3 linked regions of the Homo sapiens genome follow. The main gene of each other region encodes a partner of the protein of the gene in region 2 in a complex. Links are inferred from orthologs where the notes say so. Each region holds a gene or a part of one and is shown on either strand. Other genes may lie near its edges.

The links.
Region 1: the proteins of UNC80 (region 2) and UNC79 are in contact, whole or in part, in a cryo-EM structure (PDB 7W7G), measured with the Mus musculus proteins. The link is inferred for Homo sapiens from one-to-one orthologs. Residues at the interface, in NP_780719.2 of Mus musculus: Gln23, Thr24, Trp27, Ser31, Leu34, Arg35, Pro36, Ala80, Pro83, His84, His87, Ser94, Asn95, Asn180, Ala183, Leu187, Phe190, Leu191, Arg337, Leu340, Gln341, Pro342, His343, Arg1317, Asp1320, Glu1321, Asp1324, His1545, Val1546, Asp1547; in XP_030102533.1 of Mus musculus: Thr120, Tyr123, Ser127, Ala130, Thr131, Leu168, Ser169, Ser172, Met175, Ile176, Gln179, Tyr180, Tyr207, Tyr211, Gly212, Pro213, Ser214, Val390, Cys391, Glu394, Glu402, Phe405, Arg472, Cys541, Asp917, Phe920, Ser965, Glu966, Phe967, Ser968.
Region 3: the proteins of UNC80 (region 2) and NALCN are in contact, whole or in part, in a cryo-EM structure (PDB 7SX3), measured with the Homo sapiens proteins. Residues at the interface, in NP_115893.1 of Homo sapiens: Lys1979, Asn2004, Glu2005, Cys2006, Asp2007, Leu2128, Arg2129, Leu2130, Pro2131, Pro2134, Arg2135, Ile2138, Asp2139, Phe2142, Phe2145, Ser2146, Glu2179, Asp2184, Glu2185, Met2187, Leu2188, Asn2191, Asn2194, Ile2198, Leu2199, Glu2202, Ser2226, Leu2227, Ser2228, Gln2231; in NP_001337678.1 of Homo sapiens: Asn639, Met643, Val644, Ile646, Lys648, Leu649, Pro650, Phe653, Val655, Pro656, Lys657, Ile658, Arg659, Glu660, Phe662, Met663, Lys664, Gln665, Phe666, Ile667, Arg669, Val711, Ser713, Arg715, Ala716, Arg717, Leu719, Lys722, Glu723, Ala725.

Annotation. Positions count from the first base shown.
Region 1 is NC_000014.9:93,421,713-93,433,938, reverse strand, and holds the start of UNC79 (protein unc-79 homolog), read right to left. Parts: upstream 3,001-12,226; 5' UTR 2,910-3,000; coding exon 2,888-2,909; intron 1-2,887. UniProt on the Homo sapiens protein: Auxiliary subunit of the NALCN sodium channel complex, a voltage-gated ion channel responsible for the resting Na(+) permeability that controls neuronal excitability.
Region 2 is NC_000002.12:209,774,832-209,786,680, reverse strand, and holds part of UNC80 (protein unc-80 homolog), read right to left. Parts: intron 10,793-11,849; coding exon 10,636-10,792; intron 9,424-10,635; coding exon 9,122-9,423; intron 616-9,121; coding exon 492-615; intron 1-491. UniProt on the Homo sapiens protein: Auxiliary subunit of the NALCN sodium channel complex, a voltage-gated ion channel responsible for the resting Na(+) permeability that controls neuronal excitability.
Region 3 is NC_000013.11:101,049,145-101,057,226, forward strand, and holds the end of NALCN (sodium leak channel NALCN), read right to left. Parts: exon of another isoform or gene 7,806-8,082; intron 6,345-7,805; coding exon 6,151-6,344; 3' UTR 4,632-6,150; downstream 1-4,631. UniProt on the Homo sapiens protein: Voltage-gated ion channel responsible for the resting Na(+) permeability that controls neuronal excitability. NALCN channel functions as a multi-protein complex, which consists at least of NALCN, NALF1, UNC79 and UNC80.

The sequences.
Region 1 (12,226 bases), on a different chromosome or scaffold from region 2:
CCCGGCCACTAGCTTCTCCTTCATCACTATTACTTATCTCACAAAAGAAAATGCCACTACATAAAACAGAAATCATTTTTCATATCTCTGTGATACATTACATTTCAAAGGTAAATCGAGTAAGCTGGTTTGGGTTGAAATGCAAGTACTTTCTCTTGCTGGTCCAACAAAACTATGTCTACTTGTCAAACCAGTGAAACCTTTATCAACATCAAGAAGCTCCAAGAAGAAGAGTAATAGAAATAATATTTTGACATTATATTAAGCCTAATTCTCCCTCCTCAGTCCTTAGGAAAGTGGTAATGTGCATCCTGAATGCAGAGGAGAAACGAGCTCTCCCATTCTCTCCTTATCCAGTAGTCTTCACACCCAGTAGAAGAAAAAAAAAAATTCCCTGACCTTTCCTTCTCTTGCTCCTTACACGTAGCTAAACTTCTACCAAGTCCAAGGATAAAATGCTGCCAATCTGCGTTCTTTTTATAAAAAGTATTTGTCCTTCATGAACATCAACTATGCAGCCTATTGTGTTTTTGCTTTATTTTCAGGTACATAACATACACGAAAATGTCAATCCACTCATGTTAGTGCATATTAACAGAAAAAGAAAAGAGATTCCTTAATTACCTTCATTCTAAATACAGATATCTAAAAACATCCATAGCATCCTTAACCTTTCCACAGCCTACTCCCATTTACCTCCTTTGCCCTCCAAACCCTTAAGACTAAAGCAAAGATAGCTCCTACTACAATTCCTTACTTTAAAGATGGAAACTCTGAGGCACAAAACTATTAAGTTAATTGCCCCGTGTCTCACAATTAATCAGAAGGACATACAAAGCTCAAGTCCACATGTTCTAGCTCCAGATATGGTGTCCTTTTCATCCTCTACAGATGAAAAAAATCTGTTTCACTAACACGTCTAAAATAGCTACTTAAGTCCACTAATTGCTCTACAGAATCAAGTCCATAGATAGATTTTATTCATTGCCCAGGAAAGAGACAAGACAAAGCATCCAGTCCATTTCAAAATGTAACAAGGAAGAGAAAACACAGGAAGAGGACAGTAATACTCACTGGCTTTAGCCTGAAATTACTTACGTAATATGTAACTACACAATCAAATGACAGGTGGTGTTTTTTCCTTTAAAAACCATACTATAATAAAACCACTTGGCTTTATTATAATATCAGGATGTGATATTCTCAAGTGGGAGGTTCTACATGGACTCAAACTATGTTACCATTCCTCAAAACAGAATGCACCCAATTTTTTTCAAAAACCTCTGTAAAAGCAAAACTTAATTTTGAATGTAGATTTAACTTTCAGAAACATGCAAAAAAAATCACAAGAGAGCTTCCTAACTATTTAGAGGAGATGGACTATTTAAAAGTGGGCAATGCTTGTCATTATCATAGCCATCATTTATTGAGTACATTCTATGTGCTAGGCTCATTACTAAACCTTTTATATGTATTCTCTCATTCCCCACAACAACCCCATCAGCATGATTAGCCCAGGTTTACAGATGAGGAAATAAAGTTCAGAGAGGTCAATTATCTTGCCCAAGGTCAAACAGTAGCAAAACTAAGATTGAAACTCAGATCTTCCGGATTCCAAAAAAACATAAAGAAGTAAAAGCACTGGGTGGTAGGTGGGCATGCACAATTTCTAATGAACCATCAATCTGAGAATTCTATAAGCCTTCAGTTTATTTAATTTATCTGGTGAATAAATGACATACTGCATTTTATCATATATAAGATATTGCCCTCAAATAATGAGACTACTGTTTTGTGTGTCTCAAAAACCGGCTTTAGTAGCCATTCCAAAGAAGAATTACAAAGACTTTTAAGTAGTGACAGCATTATCCATATAACGTGTACTGCTTTGGAAGAAAGGAGTCAATCTAGGTGAATAAGTTCTGGTATATTGTTAAAAATTCAAACTTACTGCTTAATAAAAACGTCTTTTATTTACAATCTGAAGTTTAAGCTCCTGAATCCCTCAAGCCCTCAAGTGTACTCGGAAAAAGGCTTCACATTGATCAACCTACCAAGCACACACCGAAGGCCTACTAGTGCGCACTGCAATAAGACAGACTATGGGAACCATATTAGAAACTTACTCCATCCACAAGGAGTTAGCAGGTTGCTTCCAACCACGCACACAGTCAGTCATTACTGGGACAACCAAAATCCTCCGGTGCTATGGGCTGCCCTACAAAGGAAGCCTGCTCTTTGGAACAATAATTAGATCAATTAGGTCATTTTCCCAGAGCTCCTTTCACTTTCTTGTAAGCACCGCATGGTTGTGGTTGGTTTTGACATTGGTGTTGGCATTAGTGAGTTAATTTTCCTCTTGCCTGGCTCCCTGCTCCCTCCCCCTTCTCTCCCTTCTTGCCTCTTCCACCCGAAGTGGAAACTGCAGACTCAAACTCCCCTATGGCTCCAGCACCAAGAACTGGGCATGCTCAGAAGGCCAGGCAGGCTTTGGTTGCAACTGACAGTTCCCCGCCCCTGATTTGCCGCTACCCCCCTTCCCCCACTCCAACAAGAGATACTGAAATGTTTATCTGAAAGATACGAGGCCTCTTTTTCCCGAGAATGACCCCATTTTAATTTCATTTCGCAGGGTCTCTGAGTCTTGAGAAACCCCCGCTGGAGCCCGAGGAAGACCGTATTATTTTTCAGCACCGGGGACAGCGCCGCGCTGCCATTAACGTCCACCCTCCCCCACCTTCTCTCTCCGCCACCCCCCACCCGCCCCAACCTCAGCCCCCACCCCCGCACCAGCACAATGCCAAGGTCTCCCAGCAGCCGCAAACGCCGCAGCTGCAATAGCTCCCAGCCGAGGCCGGGCCGGAATGCCGGGCCGGCTGCTACTTACACTGCTCCGCTTTGGTGGACATGGTGCTGTCCAGTTGGAAAGGCTTTGCCCCAAAATCTGTGTCGTGTGAGCTCCCTCGCTCCGCCAGCGATGTTGCGAGGAAAAGAGTGCATACCCCCCACCCCCCACCCCCTCGCTTTCCCCCTCCCTTAGGCCCGTGTCGCTACCATTCGGACAAAACGCACATCAAATTGCAGAATTCGGTCCCGGAAGGTTAGGAAATCGCCCCCGGAGAAATGGGTGGGATTTAATAGGCGGCCAAAGGCTTCCTGTCCGTCCCCTCCTGGAGCTGCCCGCGTTGATGTGGGCGGGGAGACCGAAAGGAGAGAGCAGGCTGCGGCTCCTGGTGAAATGGGAAAATGGGCTCGACCGGGGGAGGAGTATTTCCATTCATAAGGCGCACGGAGGGGACGGGTGTTTCCCAGAGAAAAGCCTCTTAAAGCGCCGGAGTCCCCGACCATTTGGATCTCCCATTGGCGTTCTCCGGGCCTGTAAATCCTGCTCCCGGAGCAGCCCCCGGAGCCTCAGCAGGGTGACCAGAGAGGGACCCAGGTGCGTCCCACGCTTCGTCTCAACCTCGGGGAGGAAGGAGAGGGAGGCGGATCCGGGGCGGGCTGGAGCGCCGGGGCCGGAGGGCGCGAGGATGTTCCTGAGGACCGCGAGGAAGAAAATGCAGGAGGAACCCTCAGCATGGCTTCCCTGTGCGCTGCGGTCCCTGCCCTCGCCTCCCCTCTGCGATGGGCTCTCCTGCTGATGATTGGGGATGGGAGGTCCCACTGCCAGGGGGCTGTGACAAGACTTTAGAAGTTGGGGCTGAAGGAAGGAGGAGATGTCCACGGATGGTGAAGCTGGAAGGGCCACAGAAAAGGAAGATGAAAGACTGAAGACAGGAAGACCCCAGGTGTGCTCCCTTGCAGCCATCCCAGCTGGACAGGGACACATTAGGAAGCCCCTCGACTGGAAAACCGAAGGCAGCGGGAAAGGAAGGCAATAGACGAGGGCATCGTGCATATTAATAGGAAGATATCCAAAGAATCCACTACAGAATGGAGAGACACTTGGAGTCGGGAAGAACCAGATTCAAGACCCACTTTTACCACTTACTCACTCAAGGACCATCTTCTAATCTCCCTACACCTCCGGTTCTTTATCTGTAAAATGGGAACATTAAAACCTTGCCCTGTCACCTGAAGAGTTACTGGGCAGATCGAATGGATGCGCAAGTCCTTGTAAACTAAAAGTACGGCACAATCCCCAACCATTATGTCCATTCTTCATTCAAATAGTTTAATTTGTTAAAGCTGAGGGGCATGGTCATAGCAGGTTAATTTAGTAAAAGTTACAGGAACAAAACGGTAAGTGTTGACAATGACTTTTAATGCTGATAAATCAATGTTTTCCACCTCAGAGAATAAAAGATCCTATTTAGGGAAAGAATTTTAAATTCTGTGTAATATATCAAACTATTCAGGTGAAATCTTGGACAATTAAGAAAAATATTATGAACAAACATCAAGGAAAGATGCTTCTGAGTAGCAAATAAAAAAATCTACAAATAACAGGGAAACTGCCCATAATGATGCACACACAGCACTCAAGTTTCATGGTATTTGCAAAAATGTTCATAAAGGGTTAGTGAATTGGCTCTTTGGGTTGCATATGTGATTGGACTCTGACATCCTGCTGATTGGCAGGTTGCTCTGGCTAATCAGCTATCATTCCATGTCATTGTTCATTCCCAAAACCACATCCCAAAGAGAAGTTCCATTTATTAGTAAAAGATAAATGATTATGTGAAGCATGATGCCAAAGAGTTCGTTCTGAGTAAAAAGAAATTGGAATCATTCTAAAGAAAATATGAATATAATGAACATTCCTGAGAAGATGACAAACACTTTGTATGACTAAAAGAAAGCTCAATGGGTTATTCAGAAAATTCTTGGAAGCCTGAGGCTTTGATAAAGAAAACAGTAATTGGAAATTAACACACATGAAAAAGAGGTGTCTTGGATAATACAGAAACAAAGGACAAAGTATGTGTTGGAAACCTATTATCCCTTTATCTGCTTAACAATCTTTCATTTGTCATCAATTAACCCTCCCGTTACTGAGTTAAGGGAGAGTATAATGGTGTTAAGTCATGGACTGAGGAGTTAGACAGCCTGGGTTTGAATTCCAGCTTTGCCTCTCATGATCTGTGTAACCTGGTGCAAGTTACTTAACTTCTCCATGCCTCGACTGCCTTACCTGAAAAATGGTCATATCATAGTCACATTAAAGGTTGTCAGGAATAAATAAGTATATATATGAGAATCTAGAACAATGACACATATGAGTGATGGCTGCTATTAGCATTACTGCTGAAACTCCTCAAATGCACCCAATCCATTCAGGTTAGTTCTGATGCTTCGGAGCCTCCAAAGCCTGATAGCACCCATATAATTGAGACTCTAATCATCAACCTAGGCACTCACAGCTTGAGCCTTCTGACATGCCCATTAACTCACTAACCTGGGCCATATCCATTACTCAGTTTCACCATTCCGACATATGGCCTTACTACTTCAATGAACTCCCTCACCTTTCCTTCTGTCTCCACCTATCTCAATCCTTCCTGCTTAGTTTTCTTCTATTGCAGAGGTAGTGCCTCTTCTCATTGCCAGATGCAATGCCTTTTTTTCCAAACCTATGCCTCTAATTATAAACATTTCTACTTATTCTAGAATTTGCTATTTTAATTATCTTCTTTTTCCCAGCATTTTAAGTCTCATCTTTTCAATGGATTTTCCCATCCTGCTTGCAAACATGCATAAATTTTTCATCCTCAAAAAGCTGTGCCTATCATCTTACTGAATAAGTGGCCTCCATTTCTCCATTTCCTCACTACCCTACCTGCTATCAAATTGTGGCTGAAACAGGTTACTTCAATAGTCACTAATAATTTCCTAATAGTAAATTATAATTGCTTTATCTCTTGGTGACTAATGCCAGCATTTGAAATTTCTCCCTATTTCTTTTTGAAATTCCCTCTTCCCTTGACTTCTATAACATAATGCTCTTCAAAGTCTTCTCCAAACTTTTTGCCCATTCTATTGTTTAATGAAGTAATTCAAACATAGAAATATTTTAAAAATCATGAACACTAATGTTACCACTACCCAGTCTCATCAAATCTTAATATTTTGTCATGTTGCATTGTTTTACTTTTCAGAAAAAAACATTTTAGAGACATTAGAAGCCCCCATAAAAAATTATTCTAAATTTGTGGTTATGTCCTTATATTTTATATTATTTATTTATTTGTTCAGCAACTACTTATTGAGTGCCTATGTATGTCAAACACTGCTCTAGGAACTTGTTATAATGTAGCAAACAGAGAAGACAAAAAAAAAAATCTGCTTCTTAAAACTAATATTCTAGTGGAAAGACAAAAAATAAGTAAGTAAAACATAATATATTCAGTGCTGACAAGTACTAAAAAGAAAAATATTACACAAAGGGAAGGAGAAAGTTTGTATTGAAGGGTTTGAAATTTTGAATGAGATAAAATTTTAGATAGGGTAATTACATACACACCATATATGTCTATTTCCATAAGCAACATATATTATTTTACATGTTTTTTAATTTTCTATAATTAATACCACACTATACATATCTTTTTAAAACTTAACACTTTATGCTCAACATTCCATTTTGGTTTAATTATGTTTATTAAACACTATGTGTGAGGAACACCCCATACAATTAGTGATTAAAGACTCCAATAGCATACTCACAGCTTGATTGACCCAAAATGCCAAAATACCTAGTTAAAAGCAATTATAGCTGCTAGAAAGTGAAGGGAGAACTGTGAGAAAGAGAGAGCCACAGTAAAGGAGATATCACCTATTTACCTCTGCCCAAATATCTAGCTGATCTCTGAACCACACATGTGAAAGCCTGCATGCAAACAACAAAAACCCAACTAGGGATTCAAGAACTAAACTGATATTCAATAAACTGATAGTTTATAGTTTATATCCCATTAAGTTAGTTACCTGCTAAAAAAGTCAACACTCTTCAGAGGAAAATAACAGAATACAGAGTCTCCACAACACTAAAATCACAATGTCCAGGATACAATCCAAATTTACATGACACACAAAGAAACAAGGAAATGTGACCCACTTGACCAATGGTGAAGAAAAAAGACAATAGAAAATGAACCCAAGATGATCCAGATGTTATCATTAACAAAGATTTTAAATCATGTAAGTCTGCTCAGTGCAGTGAAAAAAAAATGCTTATAATGATTGTAAAGATGTCAGTAGAGAAATTGAGACTATATTTTTAAAAAACCATTGGAAATTTTAGAACTCAAAAGTACAATATGTGAAATAAAAAATTCACTAGATGATATTAATGGCAGGGTGTAGAAAATAGATGAAATATGAAGTAAGCTTAAAGATAAATCACTGTAAATTATCCAATCTGAAAAACAGATCGAAAAAAATAATTAGAGGAAAAGGAACATAGCCTGGGGCCTGTGAGACAATAACAAAAGTTATAACATATAATTATACTCACAGAAGAAGAGGATAAAAATACTAATAATATATTAATATATTATTTTAAAATATTTAAGAACAAATATTTAAGGAAATAATGGCTGAAAATTTTCCAAAATTTGGTGACAAAAAAAATTTACAGATATAAAAAGAAGTACAAACCCCCAAGCAGGAAAAATACCATGAAAGTCAAGCCTTAAGCACATCAGATTCAAAATGCTGAAAAACAAAGACAAGGGAAAACCTTGGAACCAACCAGAGAATGATATACAATGACACACATTACATACAGGGAACATCAATGCAAATTAACACTGACTTCCAATCAGAAACAATGGATATCAGAAGATAATAAACTAACATCTTTACCATACTAAAAAGAAAAAGAAAACTGTTAATGCAGTGGCATATTTGGCACACACAAAAAAGTCCTTCATAATGAAAATAAAATAAAAATATTTTCAGATGGAAGAGAACTGAGAGAATTTGCCACCAGCAGACTTGCACTATAGGAAATAGTAATGGAAGTTCTTCAGGCTGAAGGAAAATGATACCAGATGAAAATGCAGATTTTCTCCCAGTCTACAGCTTGTTTTTCACTTTGTTTATGGAGTCTTTTACTGAAGAGTTTTAAAATGTAAACATAGCCAAGTTTAACCAGCCTACCAATCTTTTTCTCTATAGTTTGTGCTTTCCTATGCCCAAGGTTGTAAACAGATTCTTATATTTCATTCTAAAAGTTTTAAAGTTTTACTTTTCACATTTAAGTGTTTGTTTCAACTTAAATTTATGTTTATGTTTATGTGTGAAGTGGGGTCTGCTTCTTCCCCTATGAATAAGTAGCATCTTACCCATTTATTAAACTCTTCCCCAAAAGGTTCTAATTCCATGCCAACTTGATCATAAATCAACTTTTTTATGTATATATGAGGCTATTTGCCAGATTTGTATTCTGGACCACAGGTATGTTTGTACTTGCCTGTTTAACCATACTGTTTTAATAATGATAGCTTTATAATAAGTCTTTATAAGGCAAGTCCTCCCACCAGTGCTTGTTCTTCAAATTTATCTTGGCTATATTTGACCATTTTGCCTACTGCATCCCCACCCAAATCTAATCTTGAATTGTAATTCCCAAAATCCCCATGTGTCATGGTATGGATCCAGTGGGAGGTAATTCAGTCATGGGGGCGGTTACTCCCATGCTGCTGTTCTTGTGATAGTGAGTGAGTTCTCACAAGATCTGATGGTTTTATAAGGGGCTTTTCCCCCTTTTGCTCAGCACTTCTCCTTCCTGTCACCATGTGATGAAGGATGTGTTTGCTTCCCCTTCCACCATGATTGTTAAGTTTCCTGAGGCCTCCCCAGCCATGTGGAGCTGTGAGTCAATTAAACCTCTTTCCTTTATAAATTACCCAGTCTCAGGCAGTCCTTTATAGCAGCATGAAAATGGACTAATACACCTGCCATGTGAATTTTTTTAGTTTCAATTTTTAATTTTTGAAGATACATAGTAAGTGTATATATTTATGGATGAGATGTTTTGATATAGGCATGCAATGTGTAATACGCACATCAGGGTAAATGGTGTATTCATCACCTCAAGCATTTCTCTTTTGTGTTATACGCAATCCAATTATATTCCTTGTTATTTTTAAATGTGCAATTAAATTATGTTTGACTACAGTCGCTCTACTGAGCTAGCAAATACTAGATCTTATTCATTATTTCTAACTATTTTTTGTACCCATTAACCCTCCCCCATTGCCCCTCCACCCCCACTATTCTTCCCTGACTCTGTTAACCATCCTTCTACTCTCTATCTCTATGAGTTCAATTGTTTTAATTTTTAGGTGCCACAAATAAATGAGAACATGTGAAGTTGTTCTTTCTGTGCCTGGCTATTTCACTTAGCATAATGACTTCTAGTTCCATCCATGTCATTGCAAATGGCAGGATCTCATTCTTTTTTATGGCTGAATAGTACTCTCTTGTGTATATGTACCACATTTTCTTTACATGTTTATCTGTTTATAGACACTTAGGTTGCTTTCAAGTCTGGCTATTGTGAACAGTGCTGCAATAAACATGAGAGTGCAGATCTCTCTTCAATGTAATGCTTTCCATTACTTTGGGTATATACCTAGAAGGAGGATTGCTGGATCTTAAGCTCTATTTTTAGGTTTTTGAGGAACCTCCAACTGTCCTCCATAGTGGTTATACTAATTTACATTTCCACCAAGAGTGTATGAGGGTTCCCTTTTCTCCACATCCTCTCCAGCATTTGTTTTTGCCTGACTTTTGAATAAAAGCCATTTTAACTGGGGTGAGATGATATCTCATTGTAGTTTTGATTTGCATTTATCTAATGATCAATGATGTAGAGCAACTTTTCATATGCCCGTTTGCCATTTGTATGACATTTTTTGAGAAATGTCTATTTAAATCTTTTGCCCACTTTTGAATTGGATTATTAGATTTTTTTCCTACAGAGTTGTTTGAACTCCTTATATATTCTCGTTATTAATCCCTTGTCAAATAGGTAGTTTGAAATATTTTCTCCCATTCTGTGGGTTAGCCCTTCACTATGTTGATTGTTTCTTTTGCTGTGCAGAAGCCTTTTAACTTGATGTGATCCCATTTGTCCATTTTTGCTTCAGTTGCCTGTGCCTGTGGAGTATTACTCAGGAAATCTTTGCCAGTTAAGTGTCCTAGAAATTTTCCCCAAAGTTTTCTTTTAGTAGTTTCATTGTTGGAAGTCTTAAATTTAAGTCTTTAATCCATTTTGATTTGATTTTTGTATATGGTGAGAAATAGGAGTCTAGTTTCATTCTTTCACATATGGACATCCAGTTTTCCAAGCACCATTTATTGAAGAGACTGTTCTTTCCCGAATATATGTTCTTGGTAGTTTTGTCAAAAATGAATTCACTGTAGATGTATGGATTTATCTCCAGGTTCTCTGTTCTGTTCCATTGGTCTATGTGTCTGTTTTTATGCCAGTACCATGCCATTTTGGTTACTATAGCTCTGTAGTGTAAGTTGAAGTCAGGTAATGTGATTTTTTCCAGTTTTGTTCCTTTTGCTTAAGATAGCTTTGGTTATTCTGGGTCTTTTGTGGTTCCACATAAATTTTATAATTGCTTTTTTCTATTTTTGTGAAGAATGTCATTGGTATTTTGATAGGGCTTGAATTGAATCTATAGATTGCTTTAGGTGGTATGGTCATTTTAACAATATTAATTCTTCCAGTACATGAACATGGAATATATTTCCTTCTTCAATTTCTTACATCAATGTTTTATAGTTTCAGTGTAGAGATCTTTCACTTCTTTGGTTAAGTTAATTTGTAGGTATTTTATCTTATATTGTAACTATTGTAAATGGCATTACTTTCTTGACTTCTTTTCTTTTTTTTTTTTTTTTTTTTTTTTTTTTTGAGACAGAGTCTCGCTCTGTCCCCCAGGCTGGAGTGCAGTGGTGCGATCTCAACTCACTGCAAGCTCCACCTCCCAGGTGCACGCCATTCTCCTGCCTCAACCTCCTGAGTAGCTGGGACTACAGGTGCCCACCATCACACCTGGCTAATTTTTTGTATTTTTTTTAGTAGAGACAGGGTTTCACCGTGTTAGCCAGGATGGTCTCAGTCTCCTGACCTCATGATCCACCTGTCTCGGCCTCCCAAAGTGCTGGGATTACAGGCATAAGCCACCAAGCCTGGCCTTGATTTCTTTTTAAGATTGTTTGCTGTTGGCATATAGAAACACTACTGATTTTTGTATGTTGATTTTATATCCAGCAACTTTACTGAATTTACTTATCCATTCATGTTTTTAATATAACATTGTTTATATCGAGGTATGTTCCTTCTGTAAACTAAAAATACAATTCTAAGGCCCCCCCAACCATCTGAATGAACCCCTCCTTTTGGCCAAGGGCATTTCAAAGTTAACCTGAAAAACTGGTTCAGAACGTGATGGGAATGGAGGGGTCAGACATGCCTCATTATGCCCTCCTTCCTTTTGGAATTCAGGAAAGGCCAACCAGCATTCACATCAACACAGACCTTAAGTCTGATAAGAAACACTTATAATCTATTATCTCTGAAGCCAGCTACCTGGAGGCTTCATCTGCATGATAAGCTTTGGTCTCCACAACCTCTTATCATTGTAAACAAGATATTCCTTTCTATTGATTCCCGGTCTTTAGATAATAACAACTCTTTCAATCAATTGCCAATCAGAAAATTTTTAAATCTTCCTACAACCTGGTAGCCTGTGCTTCAAGCTATCCCACCTTTCCAGACCAAACCAATGTAAATCTTACAAGTGTTTACTGATGTATTATGTCTCCCTAAAAGGTATAAAAGCAGGCCATACCATAACTACCTTGGGCCCATATCATCAGGACCTCCTGAGGGTGTGTCATGGGTGTGTTCTTAACCTTGGCAAAATAAACTTCCTAAATTGATTAAGACCTGTCTCAGATACTTTTGGGTTCACACTTCTATACCCAGTTTTATAAGAGTTTTTATCATGAAGAGGTGTTGAATTTTATCAAATGCTTTTTCAGCATGAATTGAAATGATCATATGGTTTTTATCCCTCATTCTGTTGATATGATGTCTCACATGATTGATTTGTGTGTATGTTGAACTAACATTGCATCCCTGGGATAAATCACATTTGGCCATGATAAATGTTCTTGTTTTCTTTTTTTTTTTTTAAGCTATCTCCTACATGAAGGATAATCTTTGTTTAAGATGTGTTGTTAAATTTGGTTTGCTAGT
Region 2 (11,849 bases):
CTACAGTTGAACAGTGGGACTATTTCATTAGATAATTCCTGAAGAGAAATGCTTTGATAACAATACAACACTAAGATGATTTTGTTAAGGAGCCCCTGCTCCATTTACCATGATGATGATGATAACATAATAATAATAATAATCGCAGCTGCCACTTACTATGTGCCAGACATTCTTCTAAGCAGTTTTACATATATTAGCTCCATTCCTCATAACAATCTTGTAAGTAGTATTAATATGATATTTAAATTCCCAGTTTACAGATGAGGAAGCTGAGGCACAGGAAGTCTAAATGAATTGCCCAAAGTCCATGCTCTTGATTCAGAGTAGTTTCTCCTCATGTGAGTAAGCCCTATATCAGGACACTTAAATAACTACATGTAGATATTTGCTTCTTTTTGACTTCTTAGGGGCAAATTATCCCATCACTCTAACTACTGTGTGTGAGGGAATCTGCTAATACTGTCCTACTGAGTGTCCAAGTTACAAACCTGTAATGATGTTCCTGATGGGCTTCACCAGTGCGGTAAAGCCAGAGACTCCGGGCTGTCTGTGTTCCCACATGGGCTGCCATATAACAAGCCCACTGGCCAGACGGAAGGTGAGGTCAGATTCCTAGGGGGGAGGAGAAGATATATGTCCAATAACTGACATGTAACAGCTGCTTAAAGGGACCAATCAATGCAAGGATTAACATCACTCACAAGGTTATTTTCAGAGTGAATTTATCTGCCAAACCTTCTCTCATTAGTCAGATGAATGTTTCTAGAGTAAACCAATGACCCAAAGTTATCACTGCAATTACTATGAAAATCCCAGCTGTCTGCTTTATCCAAAATTAATGACCAATCAAAACATAGCTTTGGGCAAAGCATGGGATACACAAACTATTGTTTTGTGTTTGCAGTGATTGAAACTTGTTTATTTCAGGAGCCTTGGCAGATCTCTTCACTTTGGTTATTATTATCATTCCTCTTAATTTTTTAGTTGTCCTTATTCTCCCTCATAAGGCAAAATACTCAGATACTGGCTATTTTGACATTCTATTGTCCAGTCCATCTTTTTTCTTACATTTTATGGAATCAGGCACATATAATTTGACCCTTCATAGTGTATTATTTTGTAATGTTGTCTTCTTAACAACCTTTAATTTCTTGAGGGCAAGGATAAATCAAGCATCCTCCTTCCCTCTCAGCCCCGAGCATCATCACAATGTTTAACATAGCATTAGGAACTGGGTACACAACAGATACTCAATAAATACTTGCTGAATAGGGCTGACTTTACAACCCATGCTCACTCAGTTTATCTATGATTTAAAGTATCTTTCAAGAGCATATCCTCTGCTATCATATTGTATAAGTACAAATACATGACATTCTGAGATTATATCTTAAACACTTCAGTCTCTCAAAACAATGTAAAGATAGAAGCAGAGAATGTGATCACAGATTAACGAATACATCTGAGACCCAGGAACTCACTTAGAGCAGTGATTTGCAACCCCAGCTTGCATATTATAATCACCAGGGGAGCTTTTAAATCTAAGAGGCCCAGGTATCACTTACCTCTCCTACCCAGACCCATTAAATTAGAATCCTGAGAGATTTTCTAAAGATCCCCCTGATGACTCTCACACATAGCTGAGGTTGAAAACCATTGGGATGGAAGGAAAAGAACTCAGAAGCAACTGGAAAAATAGAAAAACAAAAGCAACTCTGTACCTAGTGAAAAGAAACCTAAAGGCTAGACTGGGATTCTGACACCACTTGGCAACAGAGCCACATGGTTCCCACAATGGGAAAGTCTTTAGAATTCCCTGTGGAAGTATTAGAAAAGCACATAAAGCATTTGGCTAAATTCATTCTGCATTTATTCTGTAAACATTTATAGAGCACCTACCATATACCCGGTACTATTCTAGGTTTTAAATACAACAGTGAACAAGGCATACAAAAATCTCTGTTCGTAGTGCAGAGAGGAAGTGAAGGGCTGTGTCAGACAAAGTGTTGTCATTTTAGACCAGAGGATCAGGTGAAGCCTTATTGAGAAAGTGACTTTTGAGTAAAGTTCTGAACAAAATGAAGGAGCTGTCATGTAGCTATCTCCAGGAAAAGTATTCCATGAAAGAGGATCAGCAAACACAAAGGCCCTAAGTGTGCCTAGTGTGTTCAGAAACAGCCAAGAGACTGTGTGCCCAGAGTCAAGTGAATGTGAGAAAAGCAGAAAAAAAAATAAAATTGGAGAAGTCATTGAGTGTCAAATAATATACTGCCTGATAGGTCTTGATAAGGACTTTAGCAATTATTAAGATGAGAAGCCACTGAAGGTTTCAAGTAGCAGAGTGACATGACTGGATATATATTTTAATAGGTTCACTCAGGCTGTTGAGAATAGTTTGAGAAAGGGCAACAGTGAAAGAATAGACTATTTTGGAAGCTATTGTTATATAGGTGAAAGATGATTAGATGGGGGTACTAATAGAGGGCAAAATGAGAAGTGGTAGATTCTCAATGCATTTTGAAGACACAGCTTACAGAAATTGCTAATAGTCTGGAAGTGGAGTGTGAGAGAAAAAGTTGTCAAGGATTTTTGGCTTCACGATTAAGAAAGATAGGTAAGATGAAGGAGGAGCAGGTTTGGGGATTTCAGAAGCCTAGTTTTAGACATGTTAAGTTTGAGATATCTGTTGAACATTAAGCTAGAGATACCGAGTAAGCACTTAGACAGACAGCTGTGGAGTTAAGAGAAGAGTAACCCAAATTCCCTTGAAATGGACACGAGGAGGTCTGCATGGTATTGTATGTAGAAGCAGGAAATTAACATTAAGCAAATCTTATCAGATTTGTCTCTACAAATACAGGAAGCCAAACCTCAATTGACCTGGTTTTATTGATTAGTTTCTGAGTTCAGTCCTTTTCCATGTTTCTCATGAGAAATCTTAACACAAGTAAAACTCCTGTGGAAACTGCAGCAGGGAGTGATCTCTCTTATACTGAAATCCTGGGCTTTAACATCTGATCTATTAGCATGACACAGCACTCACTGACTGTCATGGTCATCATTTTGTTTTACTAAATACATCTCCAAGTAGATTGTATATTTCTTGAATACAAGTTGAGATCTCCTTCTTCTGTGCATTTCCTGGAGCATCAGTACAATACCAAACTAATATGTTCATTAATTGAACATGTTTTACCTTCTCCAAATAAATCCAATCACTCTTCAGACCTGAATGCCTGTAGCACCTGTGGCCTTCTCTTGTGTTGGTATCTTCCTTTGTAAGTCTTCCTAACTTGGATAAATGTATAAACTCTGGGCCTCTAATGTCTCTTCCAGAGTTTCTTTTAATGGAACACACAATGCTATGTATACATACACAAGCAGAAACTCAATAACTGGAGAGGACACTCTTTATCATTCAAACAGTTGTAAAGCAGGTAGTCTAGAAGGATCCTGAGAAAACCAGAAGTGTAAGTACACGTAGAGGCAATATCCCCACATTTCAGATGCTTTTCTTGCTTTCACTGAGAATCTGTTTCCAGGATGTCATAAAGCAATTCTGAATGTATTTACTAGTAGCTTACAGAGATTTAAAGAAACAACTATTATTTTAAGTTCCATTTTAAAGTTGTTTACTTTACACATATGGATTGGTTAAAATCCCCTGAAGGGCTTGCTTTTTGTTTTATTTCTTGCTGTTTCTCCAGCACATTGAACAGTAGCTAGCATACAGCAGGCACTTGATAAGAATTTGTTGAAAAAAAAAAAATAAGTGAATGTGGCAAAATCATGACAATGTTGATACCATATTTAAAGAAGATGCCTTAGTTTAACAAATATTCGTCATTTTTCACTGATAAAATTAAATTTGGTCTAAAATTAATAATATATTAAACAGGATTTTCAGACTGAATTTTATATAAACTATTTGAGCTAATTATAAATTAAAAAATATAAAATATGCATTGAATAATACACTGTGTTACAAAAGGATGAGTCATTTATATTAGATTTATTTACAAATTAGTGAACTAATTTATTCACTTAATATTAATTAAATACCTATTAAACACAGATACTATGTTAGCTACCACGGGTACAATGATAATTCCTACAAACAGACCATTTAGAATCTAGTAGGGGAGAAAGCCACATAAAGGGATGATAATAAACAAAGTATAACAATAAAGCTGTACCTAGAATATTATGGAAATAGAGAAAGAGGGAAAGATGGATCTCAAATGAAGTCCTAAAGGATAAGTAGGAGTTTACTAGAAAGAGAAGTGAGGTATGAGGGCATTCCGGTCAGCAAGAACAACATGAGAAAAGATCTGAAAAAAAGTATGTTATGTTCTTGGAGAGACTTCAAACATCTGGAGTTCACAGACAGGAGAAGTAGTCAGACAGGTCATAGAGGGCCCAGTTTACCAGACTAAGAAGCTGGAGTTGTACTCTCTGTATGACGAGAAATTAACAAATTATTTTAAGTATGTTGGTGATATTGTCTACATTTTTGATAGGTCACCTTGGTGTTGAGGTTAGATTTTATGAGACAAGCCAGGAGACTGAATCTAGTTAGAAAGTGGCTCAAGTAAAGGGTCCATGTAAGATATGATACAAGCTTGGGTTAAGGTAGTAAGTAGGGATGAAAAATATGTAATAAATTTGGGCAATATTTAGGAGAAAAAATGAGTGGGACTCTGTGATTAGTGGAATGTGCAAGTAAGGATGAGGGATAGTGAAAGGTAGTTTGAGTTTTTGTGAATACATCCATTATCTAAAATATAGAATCTAGGGACGGGGCTCATTACAGGTGAAGTTTGAATTTCCCATGGATTATTTATTTGGAAAAGTCATTTGACAATTTGTTCTAGAGGCAAAGATAGGAGCCTGGATTTGAAATATATAATTAGGTGACCTCAGCCTGCAGGATACACATGGTAAATGAAGTCAGAGGAAGTCTTCCTAGCAGAAAGGAGAGTGAGAAGAACAAAGTGTCAAGAATGCATCTCTGGGGACCCCCAATGTTAAAGCGGCAGACAACAAAGATGAGCTCTCAATAGAGATAGAACAGACAGAGTCAGAGATGCAAGAAGAACCAGAAGGGTGTGGTGTCATCAGGAGAACTGAACCTTTCAAGAAGAGGGCATGATGATAGTTTTAAATGCAGCTGAGGTTTAATGAAATGAGGGCTGCAAATAGAGATTAGATTCAACAACTCAGAAGTTGTTCATGACCTGAGTGGAAAAGAAAAACAACTCTGGTACAGAAACCTAAAAAACAGTGTAGTTTTGTAGAAAATCAGATAGGATTGGGTTTGAATTCCATCTTGGTTACTCACAGTCTTTACTATTATCTCTCTGGATCTCAATTTCCCTCTTGGTAAAATGGAGACAAAGATACACACATCCCTGTGGGTAGTTGTAAAAATTAGAAATGGCAGTGAAAATTTTCTGTCACATAATAGAGGCAAATAGAAGCAAGAATAAGAGATTGAAGAGTAAGTAAATGGGAGGTGAGGATATGGAGGCATGGGTTCATGCTTTGATTACATGTTGGCTTCCCATGCCTCCTATAGCACCATGTCTTATACAAGCCCCATCCTGCAACACTAAGTGCTGAGTGGGAACCTGAGGGGAAAAATCAAGGAAAGGACTGACAAGCTGGGCAGCGCAGCACACTGGGTTTAGAGACTACAGCGTTGCAGAAACATTAGTCTGAATGGTTGTGTGGTTTCCCCAGCAGCATGCAGATTTCTGGGTAGGGATAGAAAATGTGAATTTTGGTCTTGATCTGGAGTTGGAGTCATGAAAGGCAACTGCAAAGAAGCATAGGGATTAAAGGATGTTAATGGTGCTGGTGAGGGGAAGTTTACATGGGTAGGGAAAGACCATAGGCTCCAACAGAACCTGATAACGGCAGGCAAATGAAAGATGTAAGGCGGTGGCTCTCAATCAGGACCAATTCCCTCCCACACACCCACCTGTGAACATTTGGCAACATCTGGAGTCATCTGTGGTTGGCACAACTCAGGAGCAATGGGGTGTTACTGGCATCTAATGGATGGAGGCCAGAGATTGTACTAAATATCCTACAATGCATAGGACAGTGTCCCATAACAAAGAATTATCTGGCCCCAAATGCCAACAGTGCCAAGGCTGAGAAATCCTGATCTAGAGATTGTACATTCCCCAACAACTTGAAAAAACCAGACATCTCTCAAACAGAAAAGCCCTTGTGGCCAAAATTACTGACTGAATGCTTTTTATTCTCTACAGCTTCAAGAACAATGCTTTCCCCATAGCAATGACAAAATGATTAAACTATAATGATAATATAATAAAAATGATAAATATATTATTACCACTAACTATAATTGTTTATTTATATCAATCACTGTGTAGTATTTTGTATGAATTGTCTTACTCCTTTATAAATGCTCCATTCCCAAGCCATAAGTTAAACATGAGGGTCTTAAGTCAGCTTTTCGAATTATTTGAGTAGTCACTCCTGAAGGGAGATCTTGCTCCTTTTCTACTAATAATACATAATACCAGCAGCAATAAAATACCAACACTAAAGACAACTAACATTTGTTAATGAATTTCTTTGTATCAAGTTGAATACTATAACTTGTTTAATCTTCACAATGCCCTATAAATTTATTCTTAGGTCCAATTTATACTTGAGAAAATGGAGGCTTATAAATTATTTGCTCAATGTCTTACAGTAGAGCACAGCAGGCACTGGATTCAAATACAGGCTTATCTGTTTCCAAAACTTAGACTCACAGCTATGTCTTAAAAATAAAATTACATCCACCCTGGGCACTCCTATATTCCCACATTTTTCCAGGTGATATTTGTCAACATATAAACATCTTTTTTGGGCTACTTTTAAAGAAGACTTGTTTCCTGTCCTCTCCATTTTAAAGGCTTCATTTCTAAAAATGCTGTTTTTAGCACTTGGATCAGCTTCCAATAATGACAAGTCTACTCAGTGTGTCAGTCATTAAATATTTATTGAGAGTCTCATATATGACAGACACTATTTGAGACACTAGAGATACAGCTGTCACCAGGACAGGCAGACTCCCTTCACTCAAGGACCTCTGTTCAGTGAGGGTGAAGGGCAACAAACATGCAGACAAATGCATAAATAATTCCAGGTACTTGTAAGTGCTAACAAGGAAAAAAATGTAGGATAGCATGCTAGTTGCTCGAGAGTAGCCAGGGAAGTACTTTCTGAAGTGTTGCCATTTGAGTTCTGAGTAAACCAATGACAAGTACATGGCTATGTGAAAATCTGAGTGTAGAAGGTAGGGTCAGTGTTTCAAGTTGAAAAAAACAGTGTAAGGATCTGAACACAAAAATGCACTTGTCAAGTTTGAGGGTGAGAATCCCACAAGCCTGAAGATGGTTAGTGAATGAGAGAAAGGCCAGTGAGATAGAGGGAGATGAGGCCCAGGAGGTGCACAGGGGTAGGTCCTGCAGAGCTCACAGGCCAGGTGGACAGTCCCTATTAAAGCAGTGCTTCCTACTAAGTATCACCTGTATAAAATACTTTAAAATGGGAAGCTAGAGATTTTAAAATGGCAAGTTAATTTGACTTGACACCTAAAGAGTTTAGTATGTTTGATGGGCAATGTGGCCAGTGTATGTGTTGCATTTTGGGAATTTATAGGTGGTTTCAAATCTATTTCTCCTAGCAATGGACAGAGTTAATGGAAAGTGAATTTTTTAGGAAACTAAAAATGAATGAAAATACTCACTAGTCTGTTCCCTTCATGGTGACTGTTAATGTTCACAACCACCTTCATAAATATATTACTAACTTGAACCACTGCTAACTTGATCCATTCACTGGGTTATAATATTCTATTAAAGAGCAGATGAACATGTCAATTCTTATCTTAGCACTTAAGTGAAATTTGTTAATTTATTCATTCACAGAAGTAACGAATAGTTCTTGATTTCTTTTCATGCATTGGAACTGCAGTGTGTGTCTTACATATATATTCACCCCGTGTTAGAGCAACTGAGGGGTTAAGTAATATCAACAAAATCACACAGCTAAAAAGTGATGGCACAGTGATTTCAAATTATATTGTCTCCTCCAAGTGGATATGATTGTATTTTGAGATAACTGGTTTCCATGTAATCCTATGTTTTGTATTTTAAGCATTTAAAAATATTTTAAAAAGCAATTCTTAGGCTATACCCTACTGTCTAAAAGTCCATAGAACATAAAAAGTTAAAACTTATTTTTTTTTCATTTTAAGACAGAGTCTCGCTTTGTCACCCAGGCTGGAGTACAGTGGCACGATCTAGGTTGACTGCAGCCTGTGCCTCCCAGGTTCAAGAGATTCTCCTGCCTCAGCCTCCCGAGTAGCTGGGACTGCAGATGTGCACTACGCCTGGCTAATTTTTGTATTTTCATTAGAGATGGAGTTTTGCCATGTTGGCCAGGCTGGCCTGGAACTCCTGACCTCAAGTGATTCACCTGCCTCTGCCTCCCAAAGTTCTGGGATTACAGGTGTGAGCCACCGCGCCTGGCTAAAACTTAGACCCTGTATTATAAGAGAGGTAGTTACAAGATGCTATAAAAATGCAAAGGGGGTAGGAATGAAGTCTAGATGGTGAGGTCTAAGGAATAGCTTCATGTTAAATATGATATTAAAGTTGCATTTTGAGGACTATGACAGGAATAGAGCGGGGAAAGGAGAATAGAGCAATCAGCAAGGGCATATTCAGGGAATGGCTGTCATGGTTTCAAATGCTGGATCATGAGGTGGCCAGTAGGGACCAACAGTCTATAAATCAAGAAAGCAATTTAAACCCTACATCATGCTTGACCTTTTATTCTATGCTTAATATGTTGGGCATTATCATGAGGCAGAGGGAGAACCACTGAAGATTTTTAAGTAGGTAAAGGCTTTGTGGAAATTTGTGTTTTTGAAGCAATGTTCAGTAGTTTAACACAGAAATAAAGTTCTCCATGCCTTGACTTGCTGTAAGGTCATACAAAGACATGCCCAACCAAATATGGAAATATCATTTGAAGTCTACCCTCACCACATCTCCACCCACTCCAGCTCTAACACTGGGTTTCTGCTTACCTTGATCCTGTGTACCAGGGGAGCAAACAGAAACACGAAGAGCTCCACAGTAGCCATGGAGTTCTGGAAGATCTTTCTTCGGTTGTTCTCTTCTTCGTCATTAGAGCTGCTTTGGCAAGGCTGCCCTGGAGAACCCTGGTTTTCAACCTGGTGGATGAAAGCACTGCTGCTTCCACCCCAGCTGGAGCCTCGGTCTGTACCCCCAAACCGCTCATTGTTGCAGTCCTGGGGGGCCTCCAGAAGCATCCAGTGTAGAGTGTGAAGGAGCTTTGTCTCAGCAACACCCAATTTATCCTGGTGGCCTGCATGGGACAATTACACAGGCAGGTTAAGAAAAACTCTGTGACCAGGGCAATAGATGTCAACAATGGGTCTGGGAAGAATATCCCTCCTTTCTCTATACTTCTTACAACCACTGCTAGCAGGGCTCATTCTTGCTTTTTGGACTTCCCTACTGGCCGCAATCTCTGCAGAATGATATGCTGCCATGGGGGCAGAAACTGCTGAATCACTTTTCTTCAGTTAGGTACCCAAATATATTTCCAAATAGGCAGCGTAGTGGTTAAAAATATAGACTCTGAAGATAAAAGCAATCCTATTTTAGACAATGTGACCTAGAAAGGTCCCTCTATAGGAGTGATATTTGAGCAGAGGCTCAAACAAGGGGAGGAAATGGGATGGAGAAGAGTATGTACGCTAACGTGGGGTACATGGGTAGGACACATTGCCAGATGAAAAAAGCAATCTGTAAAATATTCTAAAAAATAGTTCTTATGCACATGTGCACACATACTCATACACAGTACTACAAAGCTGGAAAATGTCTGAGGCAAATATGCCCAGTTCATGAGAGTGGTTGCTTTAGGAACTGAGAGAACAAAAAGGATGACCTTGGCTAGGACTCATCTTGGGCAGGTGAAGGTCTTAGCTTGCCTCTAATATTTTAATTTTTTTGTGTTGTTTTTGTTTGTTTGTTTTTGAGACGGAGTCTCACTTTGTCACCTAGGCTGGAATGCAGTGGTGCGATCCCAGCTAACTGTAACCTCCGCCTCCCAGGTTCAAGTGATTCTCCTGCCTCAGCCTCTCGAGTAGCTGGGATTACAGGTGTGCACCACCATGCTCAGGTAATTTTGTATTTTTAGTAGAAACGGGGTTTCACCATGTTGGCTAGTCTGGTCTCGAACTCCCGACCTCAGGTGATCAGCCTGCCTCGGCCTCCCAAAGTGGTGGGATTACAGGCATGAGCCACCACACCCAGCCTATCTTAATGTTAAAAGGAGAATATATTCATATATTACTTGTAAAATTAAAAAATTAAAAACAAGACAGCCAGTTTCTTTATCGGTAAAATGAAAATAATGAGTATAAGTGTGAGGAGGATTTTGTGATAATTAAATGAGATAATATATGCACAGTGCTTGAGAAAACAGAAACTACTCAGTACAGGTTATTATGATGAGTGTTGAACACAAAGGGCAATCACATGCAATAAAGAAGTAATGCGGGGCACCAACCTAGCTTGTTTCGGTTTGAAAGCAGGGTTGCAGTGCAGTGGAGGACATGAGGCAAAGCAGCTTGCACCAGTTCCCATCTGGAAATGCTCTGGATGGCTTCAGAGAGAGCTGGAGAGAGGCCATGCAGCTTGTTTTCTACCAACACTCGCTCAAAGGACTGTAAATACAAAAACAAAAACAATAAGAAAAGCCAAAATCCAAAACCACGTAAACTAAGAAATTGAAGATTCTGGTTAGTGAAAAAATGAACAGCAAGGTACTGTACCCCTTAAAAGATGCAAATTACTGGACCAAATTCTTTAGGGAGAACTCATTGCATTTTCTTGTATATGTTGATGTGCAATGGGTCAGTAATAATTTTCTATTATCTACCCATTTGCAGGCTTTTGAGCCAAAGTAAATGGCTTGAATTAACAAAACGATTTTTATTTCTGTTAAAATAAGCTTCCTCTAACAAATAGGAACAAAACATTTAACCTCATGAGATTTTTGGATGTATATTTTATAAAATGTTGCCGAGTCATCCAAAAGACTGTCACAACTGCAGACCAAAATAAGTTTTTTGTGAAAGTGTCTTGAGAAATAGAATTTATGTCAGTTTCTTCAACTGGTGTTAAGATACAACTTTGGAATCCCTGATTTATCTCATGGCTTAGCAATGACCCGGCACAGAACACTCTCTACCTAATGCCTGGAACAATAAAAGATACTTAATATATCTGTGGAATAAAGAAAGAAAGGAAGGGAGAGCAGGAAGGAGGGAGGGAGGAGGAAAATAAGCCATCTTTACTTTGCTGGTTATTAAATTTTCTATCCTTGCCAGGGATACTCAGAGAGTATCAGAGAGTGTAGCACTCCGGAACAAGTAACAACTCTGACCTACTTAATTATTGTTTTTTCTTTTGAGGGAGGAGAGAATATCACTGTAAGGTGTTGGAGAAAATGTAGTTACGAAATATTGGAATAAATTTAATAAACATTTGGCATGTAAGAACAGGATTGGTACTTGATGCCCCAGTCAATAAAATTGTATAAATGTTCTATATAATAATCATAAACAAGTCCCAAGTGTTCAAACTGTATTATTGGAATTATTAGGATACCAATAATGTGAGAAAGACAGGTATCCTAATATGGCTTACTACAGAGATATCCAAAGAAAACTTTTTACTTTTTGATTCAAAAAAAGAAAAATAAGAAATTCACCTTTATAA
Region 3 (8,082 bases), on a different chromosome or scaffold from region 2:
AGCAGTGAGTCCCTTAATGACTAAATTACATCCAAGAGGAAGGCCTATCCTTCTCAGTCAAGTTAATTTTTCTCCATTACACTTAAAGCCTTCTGACTTATATATTTACCTGTTTATTTTCTGCTTCCCCAATAGACCATAAACACCATGAGATCAGAGCATCCATCTGTAGACTCACAGAGCAAGAAGCGTGACTGCCCCAATCTTGAATGGATGAGTAAGTAAGTGAACTACCTGATGATTCATTCATCGGACAATAGTCGATCTGAGGCAATTACAGTGTGTCTTGTGTTATTTAGACTTTCCATTGATAAATTACTATAGGCAGAGTTCAGACAGTTCTTCCTAATTAGAGAATAACCTGTCTTTTGGAAAGCTACTTTGTTTTTTTTCCCCCTGTGAATTGAATTCTCAGAGGATCATCACAGGAAAGGAGATCTCTCTGGTGTAACTTTTGTACTGAATCTGCATTGGACGTTGCTGAGCTCTGTCCTGATGGAAGAAGAATGTCCTGAGAATCAGGAAGTGTGCAGCATGTTCAGGCTGGATGTGACTTCTGTTCAGGAATGTAGGGGGTGCAATAAGAAGGTGGCGTGTCAGAAACAAGAGTTGGCACAGATGAAAGGTCTGTTGGAAAGGGTTGGAAGAGAGAGAGCATCTGTGTTTGAAGCCAAGGAGGAAGGAGGGCAGATAGAATGGTTCACGTTGGAGAGAAGAGAGAGACTGAAAGCACTTTTCTGCCTACAGAATTTTTTTTAATAGGAAGCCATGACCTTGAGCATGGTTGGAGAGAAGTCTGGGGACTATTGAGGTGCTTAGATGATATGGAAAATATATGGTGAGACCTGGAACCAGCTAGGTCAGAGATAGGGAGTGAAGAGGTGTCAATGGTGATGGACCATAATTCTATCCAGGAAAAATTAATTGTCATTATTTATGATAAGTCCTCATTCCAGACCATTGTGGTCAGTAGATAAAGGGAGAATGTGTGTCTTTCTAGGGAACTTTTGTTTCTTTTTGCCTTAGTTTTCTTCTTCCAGCACCTCTATTCTTCTTCTTCATCCCATCCCCGCAATAAAATCTGAGCAGTTTGATGCCCACATCTCAAAATGCAACCCTAAAGTCAAAGAGAGAAGGGGTGTTCCATAGGGGGATAGCTGTTAAGAGCAGGTGAGTCTGGAGGGGCCATCCCTCTCCCATCAACTGCAAAACTCTACCTAGTAAACTCCCAACTTGTACATTCCATTCAGCTTGCAAGATCCAGGAGTAGTACCCCCAAGCAATTATAATGTAAAAGATTAACAAGTGGTCCAGGGAAATGAGAATCAAACAAAAAAGGTAAGTTAAATAAAATTTATAATTATAAGGCCTGTGGGAGAAAGCTAGGAGAGAAAGCGTATTCTGGAATTAGGTCCAGAAAATGGTCAGTGTATTTCTGTGGGTCCTGGTTCAAGAAAAGATTAACAAAGGGCAGTGTTGTTTGGAAGAGCAAGTCATTGGTGCAAGATGAATGAGCCCAGTGTGGTGAGGTCCTGCAGCCCCTTTTGTCTGGTAAGTCCCTGTCACATCTCCACCCTCCTTCCATGTCCCATGCTGCTACAGAAGTTCAACTTTGAGGTTGGAGAACTAGAACCACAATTTTCTTGGAAAGCTGGGGTATTGTAAAGATTCACCCTGCATCTGTCTCTCCCTCCTCAATTCCATTTTGCACATTGCTCCCGGCGTGCTCCTCCTAAAGCCTGGTCTTGCATTATTACCATAATCTCCCTCCCTCTCCACCTCCATGGACTCCCCTTTTCTACTGATCACTGTCCACATGAAATGTGGGCATTAAAGGTTCTTTGTGCCCTTGACCAAGTCTCCAGTCTTGCCTTTGCACACCTATTCAGAAGACTTGGGAATTCATTGAATAGAGTCAACTGACGCTCTCCTTGATAATTTTCCTTTTGTTATTCCAGGCATCATTCTGTCTGCTACTTCCCCATCTATGACAATTTAAATCCAAGTATTCCTTCTTTAATGCTTAATTCACATGGCATCACCACCCCAAAAGCCTCCTCTGATCACCACTCCACCTTTCTATGGCAGATTTAACAATTACCTTATATCATGGGGACCCGCACATCTGTCTTGTCTCTCCTACTACAGTTCAAGCAAAAGATCATGTTGGTATGCTCGGCTCTGGCTTCTTCACAAGGCACAGCACAGTATATAGAAGATGCTGAGAAAGCTTTGATGGAAATAAAGAGATCTGTGGCTCAGGTGGAGAAGTAAGACTTGGAGAAGAAGCGAGGTTCTTTATAAGACAGAAAAGAATGGGGAGGGGATGAATGAACATGTACAAAAACACTGAGATAAAAAGAAAAGGGAGGTGGGGAAGTGCACATGAGAAAGCTGTTAGCTTTTTGGGTTGCTAGTTCCCTGGGAGATAGAAACAAGAGCTTGGGAAGCATCATAGAAGAACTACTCAAGGCAGAGGTCAGAAGTGCATACAAATGTATTTCTAGAGGTGTGAAAGGAGATCTTGTGGGCTGGGGGTATCTGGGGTGGACAAGATCAAGCCTGTGGTGTACCTGTGGCTATGTGGGATGAATAAGAAATAGAGGAAGAAGGAGGTGCAATGTTAGAGAGTCCTAAAGTAGAATTGGAAAGGGAGTTAGTAGAAGACAGAGACTAAACTAAAAAACTAAAATGATAAAATGATAAAAAAGCAGACAAACTGGGCAGCTTAAAACAACAGAAATGTATGTTCTCACAGTTCTTCTGGCTAGAAGTCCAGAATCAAGGTGTTGACAGGGGGCCATTCTCCCTTAGAAGCCTCTGGGAGGCGCCTTCCTTGCCTCTTGCAGCTTCTGGTAGCCCAGGTGTCCCTTGGCTCTGGGCAGCATAGCTCCGATGCCTCTGCCTTCACCGTCTCATGGCCATCCTCCCCACATGCCTGTGTCTTCAGAGGATACCAGGTATGTTGGAGTAAGGGATTACCCTCCTCTAGTATGACCTCCTCATAAGTAATTATATCTGCGAAGACCCTATTTCCTAATAAGGTCATATTCACAGGTACTAAGGGTTAGGACTTCAACCTATCCTTCTGGGGGTCACACTTCAACCCATAATAGTGGGTGAGAAGAGACCACATGAGTGCCGTTTTCATCTTCACCTCAACTTCAACGAGGGCTGCCTGGCTTTTGGCTGGTTAAAATTTTGGGATCTGTTGAAGGCCTTAGAAACAGTTCCACTGCTTACTGATATACTGAAAACCACCCATGTATAGAATGCCACTTCCTACAAGGAAACAGGCAAACACATCATTCCACTGGCTTAAAGCTGCTTTCCTGTAAGGCTTTATAACACTGGTTTTTCTTCTGTGTACCCTTATCTCATTCAGCTTGGCCAAGGCACAGCCAGCCAGACACTGCTGATGTATGTTGGTCTGGAAGTACCATTAAGAATAGAGTGGGCCGGGCACGGTGGCTCACGCCTGTAATCCCAGCACTTTGGGAGGCCGAGGCGGGTGGATCACGAGGTCAGGAGATCGAGACCATCCTGGCTAACATGGTGAAACCCCGTCTCTACTAAAAATACAAAAAAATTAGCTGGGCATGGTGGCGGGCACCTGTAGTCCCAGCTAATTGGGAGGCTGAGGCAGGAGAATGGTGTGAACCCGGGAGGTGGAGCTTGCAGTGAGCCGAGATCGTGCCACTGCACTCCAGCCTGGGTGACAGAGCAAGACTCCGTCTCAAAAAAAAAAAAAAAAAAAAAAAAAAAATAGAGTGAATAGCATTGGCCCTTCCATTCTGTCCATCCTTGTTCCCTTTGAGTCTCCTTGAAGTGCCATACAGGTCACACATGTGTGGCCTGCTCTCTCAGGGGCTCTGAGTCAAGTAAGTATTCCACCCCATATGCTTTCTGGTGCCTTTGGAACTGACAGCACCCTCTAATTAAAGGCAGTGGGTGGCGTGATGACAGGATTAGTATCAGTGTCTGGCTTCCCTAAGGACCAGGGAACACTGTGACCCAAGTTTTCCCATCTGTGTAATGGGATTTTTCATATGTTTACATATCTAGGGGTAAAATCTAAATGGGGGTGGTGCTTAATTTCTCTGGCTTGCATATGCTCTACCTGTTTCAGGAAAATCGTAGAGAGGAGTCCTACAGGAAGTGTGTGACTGTTTCGCTTCATTGAAAATATAGGGTGCTATGGCTTTAAATACATTGGTATTCTGCCCCTGGCTTCACTGCAGAATGAACAACAATGATGTTCTGCTGAACATCAATTCCAGACGTTTTAGAAAGGGCTCAGCAGTTTCGTGAGAATGAAGCTGTATTACTCAAGTGTAATGAGCCAAAAACATCTTGTTTTTATGCAGCACTAGTACAGACCCATGCCCTGGACCTGTAAGTGCCTTTTCTGTTCATTGTAGGCTTAGAGGGCACAGGGTATTCACTCAGCCTTATCAGCACAAGTGTGAAAGGAACATTCTGGCTCAGAGAATTGAGTTGAAATGAGTATCAGGGACACAGCTTTTGCCAACTAATTATGGACTGAATATTCAATCCAGGTTTGCAATGTGCTGCTACCGAGTGCCTGCCCCACCAAGAAAAGGGTTTAAAAATGGTCAACTCAGAGTAAATTATTTTACAAATCCAATATTTATTTTATCTTGTATGTACAAAAAGTAAACTCCAAGTGAACATCAAATCAAATCTAATCCTTTTGGCCACATGACTGGTTGTTCTTTATCTCATAGTTACAATGAATCATATAAACTGTAGACTGCCACTACCACGATACTTCTGTGACACAGAAGGAATGTCCTATTTGCCTATCTATCTGAGGAATGTTAAATAGAGAAAAATAGATTATAAAACAACCTGGAGGTCACAGGATTCTGAGATAATCCCTCTGTTAAAAAACATCTGAACAGCAAATGTCCAATCTGTAATAAAATAGTTAAAGGTCCAAGTCAAGTCCACTTCTACTTGGCTGGCCCAGCACAAGAAATCTAACAGCACTTTGTAATCATTTTGCTTTTCTAATTTTCCCGGAGGACATGGGCCATTGACATATAAGGAAAAAAAACAAAAACAAAAAACGATTAAGTAAGTTGTGTGATCCCTAACCTGTGAGTTCAAAGGAAGATTTTGCAGGGCACCATTATTTCCATAGAAGATTCTTTTAACAGAGATGTCATTTCAAATCTAACGTAGCAATGGTGTGTTAGGATCACCCAGAATGAAATGACTCTGCTGATTTATGGCAAAACAGACATACCTTGGGTAAGAAATGAAGCCAATGATAACATCACACATGCAAAGATTTTTTTAAATAAATTGAGCTATATAGTTTTATTCTTTTTGCTAAACTCAGTTATTAAAAGGTTTCTTAAGAAACTTAACATCTTTGCGCAACTATGTCACTCAAGTGATTTATCTACAGGTTTGTTTTAAACCGCTAAGCATCCTGAGTCCATTTCTTTGCCTGGTGCTTGCACACACAATTTTCTTAGAAGGAGGCAACAGTTTCATTAACATAACTGAGGACAGAAATCAACTTGTTCTGGTCACCAAATGTCTTGTGTATATTTAAAAATATAACACGAGAAAAAGAAGATACTTTTTAAAATTCAGAATCTGTAGTTTGTAAAACTACTATCATTTTAGCATAAGTTCAGTGCTGACCTTTTCAGATCAATCATAAATAATAAATTCTCTCAAGAGAAATATTTCTAGTGGAAATGGGAAAGATGTGAACTAAAGCTATAACCCCTGTACCCTAAATATCAGCCACTTTGGGCTTAGCACTCTTTTGCGGGGCGGTGATAATACTGCATTAGAGCACATATGAATATATACCTTAGTTTACGCAGACAGAATATATGACATTTTTAAGTGATATACATTTGCTTGCGGTATCATTTCTAATATTATCAGTACTGTCATTATACAAAAATTTTTTTGAGCAATGATTGATAGTAACCCATCATACATGCAGCTTATGCCTTTCTGTGGCAGGATGAAAATCAATTTATAAACATCTTGTGACAAGCTGGAATTCAGTTATAGATCAATTACAGATTGCTCACTGGACAATCAAGGACATTATTAGAAAACGGTTTCCACCACTAGAAATTCATCTACATTGACATCCACCTAAATATCCAGAAGGTCATCCCCACTTTCGTCGCTCTCCACAGTCAGCTGCCGGGTCCACCACTTCTTAACTTCAGAACCGCAGGAAGCCGCGTCAGTCATGGGGTTCATTTTGCACACGACAGATTTCATGGTTGTCCTTCCTCCAAACCGTAAGTTGACTGAGGACACTGAATGGCTTATTGGTTTTGGGGCTGTGGAATTAATGAGTCCTATGAGCCACTTGGTATTGCTTCACCCTATTGTAATCACTCCTAAAAACCCATGATATTCCCATCAGTGATACTTTTGGCTAACGTGTCCTAGCCACAGATGCTAAGTAAACATCCTTTTCAGGACTTGATTCTTTATGTTCACGATAGATTTTTTTTTTAATTGTGCTCATGGACAACTAATGATGTCATTTGGGAAAAAAACGTGCTGCTCACCCCTTTCATTTTGAAATAATTAAAAAAACTAGAAAATCACTAAAAAAATTCCAATTCGGGAACTATTAAGTGTCACAGAAACCTGTGCATTCATTAGCATATGCAATAAAAAAAACAAAAAGGAAGGAGAGTGTGACCCACAGTAAAGGCGAGGGGGGATGCAGTGAGGGTATGGGAGGAAAGGTGTGGTTCTGGGGCCTCACAGTCATGGTGTTGGGACCCACCTCTGCAACCTGTGGATATGTAGCTATGGGCAACTTCACGTCTCTGAACCCAAGTTTCCTCCATTGTAAGATGAAGACAATGAAAATGTCCTAATTAGACTATTGTCAGGATTAAAACAGGTTACATGAGATGACTTAGGAAAGTGCATAGCATGACACCTGTGACATTGTTGCTGCCCCCTCAAAATACTATTTTTCTTCTCCTCTGCCTCCTCAAACTCAGCCTGACCCCAAGAGCATGTCTATTTCACGATCACCGTTTTTGGTGGGGACCACCTAGGCATGGACCAGTGGAAGTACTTTTTTTTTTTTTTTTTTTTTTTTTTTTTTGGGAGACAGGTTCTCACTCTCTCACCCAGACAGGAGTGCAGCGGCACAATCTTGGTTCACCACAACCTCTGCTTCCCAGGCTCAAGTGATTCTCCTGCCTCAGCCTCCCAAGCAGCTGGGATTACAGGTGCACACCACTACCGGTCAGCTAATTTTTGTATTTTTAGTAGAGACAGGGTTTCACCATGTTGACCAGGCTGGTCTTGAACTCCAGGCCTCAAATGATCCACCTGCCTCGGCCTCCCAAAGTGCTGGGATTACAGGGGTGAGCCACTGCGCCTGGCCCAATGGAAGTACTTTTGACAGCATCATTTCTTTTGTCCATTTAAATGAATACCAAGGACTGTGCATTCTCCCCAGGTCACCTCTCCTATCTGTCCCTGCAGTATCTGGCCCCCAGCTCTGTCCATGCCTTTGTTGCCTTGTGCTCACACCACGGTAACTTCCTCCAGCTTGTAACCTGCCTCCAGGCTCTGTCATAGACAATTCCCTCCTTTGCTGCCAAGTCAACTTCCTAAAGCACAGATTCCAAAAGTCACATACTGCTCAGAAATCTTTGCTAGCTCCTAATTGCCTACAGGATAAAATTGAACCGACTCAGCTTGTAATTTATGACCTGGCACCACCATCTACGTTGTCTTGATGCTGTCATTCTCTGCTGTGTTTGAATCAGGAGGAACCTAGATCTTCTCTGATCTCTGAAAAATAAGTTCCTGGATATGAAAGGGGATACTTTCCTTGGTGGTAGTCCCAGTGAAGACCCACTGAACATCGTCAGCCTCAAAATGTAAGCTGTGCTGTCATCTGCTTTGTGGAACACATATGCTACACATCTTCTCCTTTCAATTGGGCTGAAGTTGGGGCACAGTTAAAGAGCATTATAAAGCTCCTGCTTTAGCATGAACTTAGTTATCTATAGAAAAAAACATGTACAAGGACACTGGGCTGTG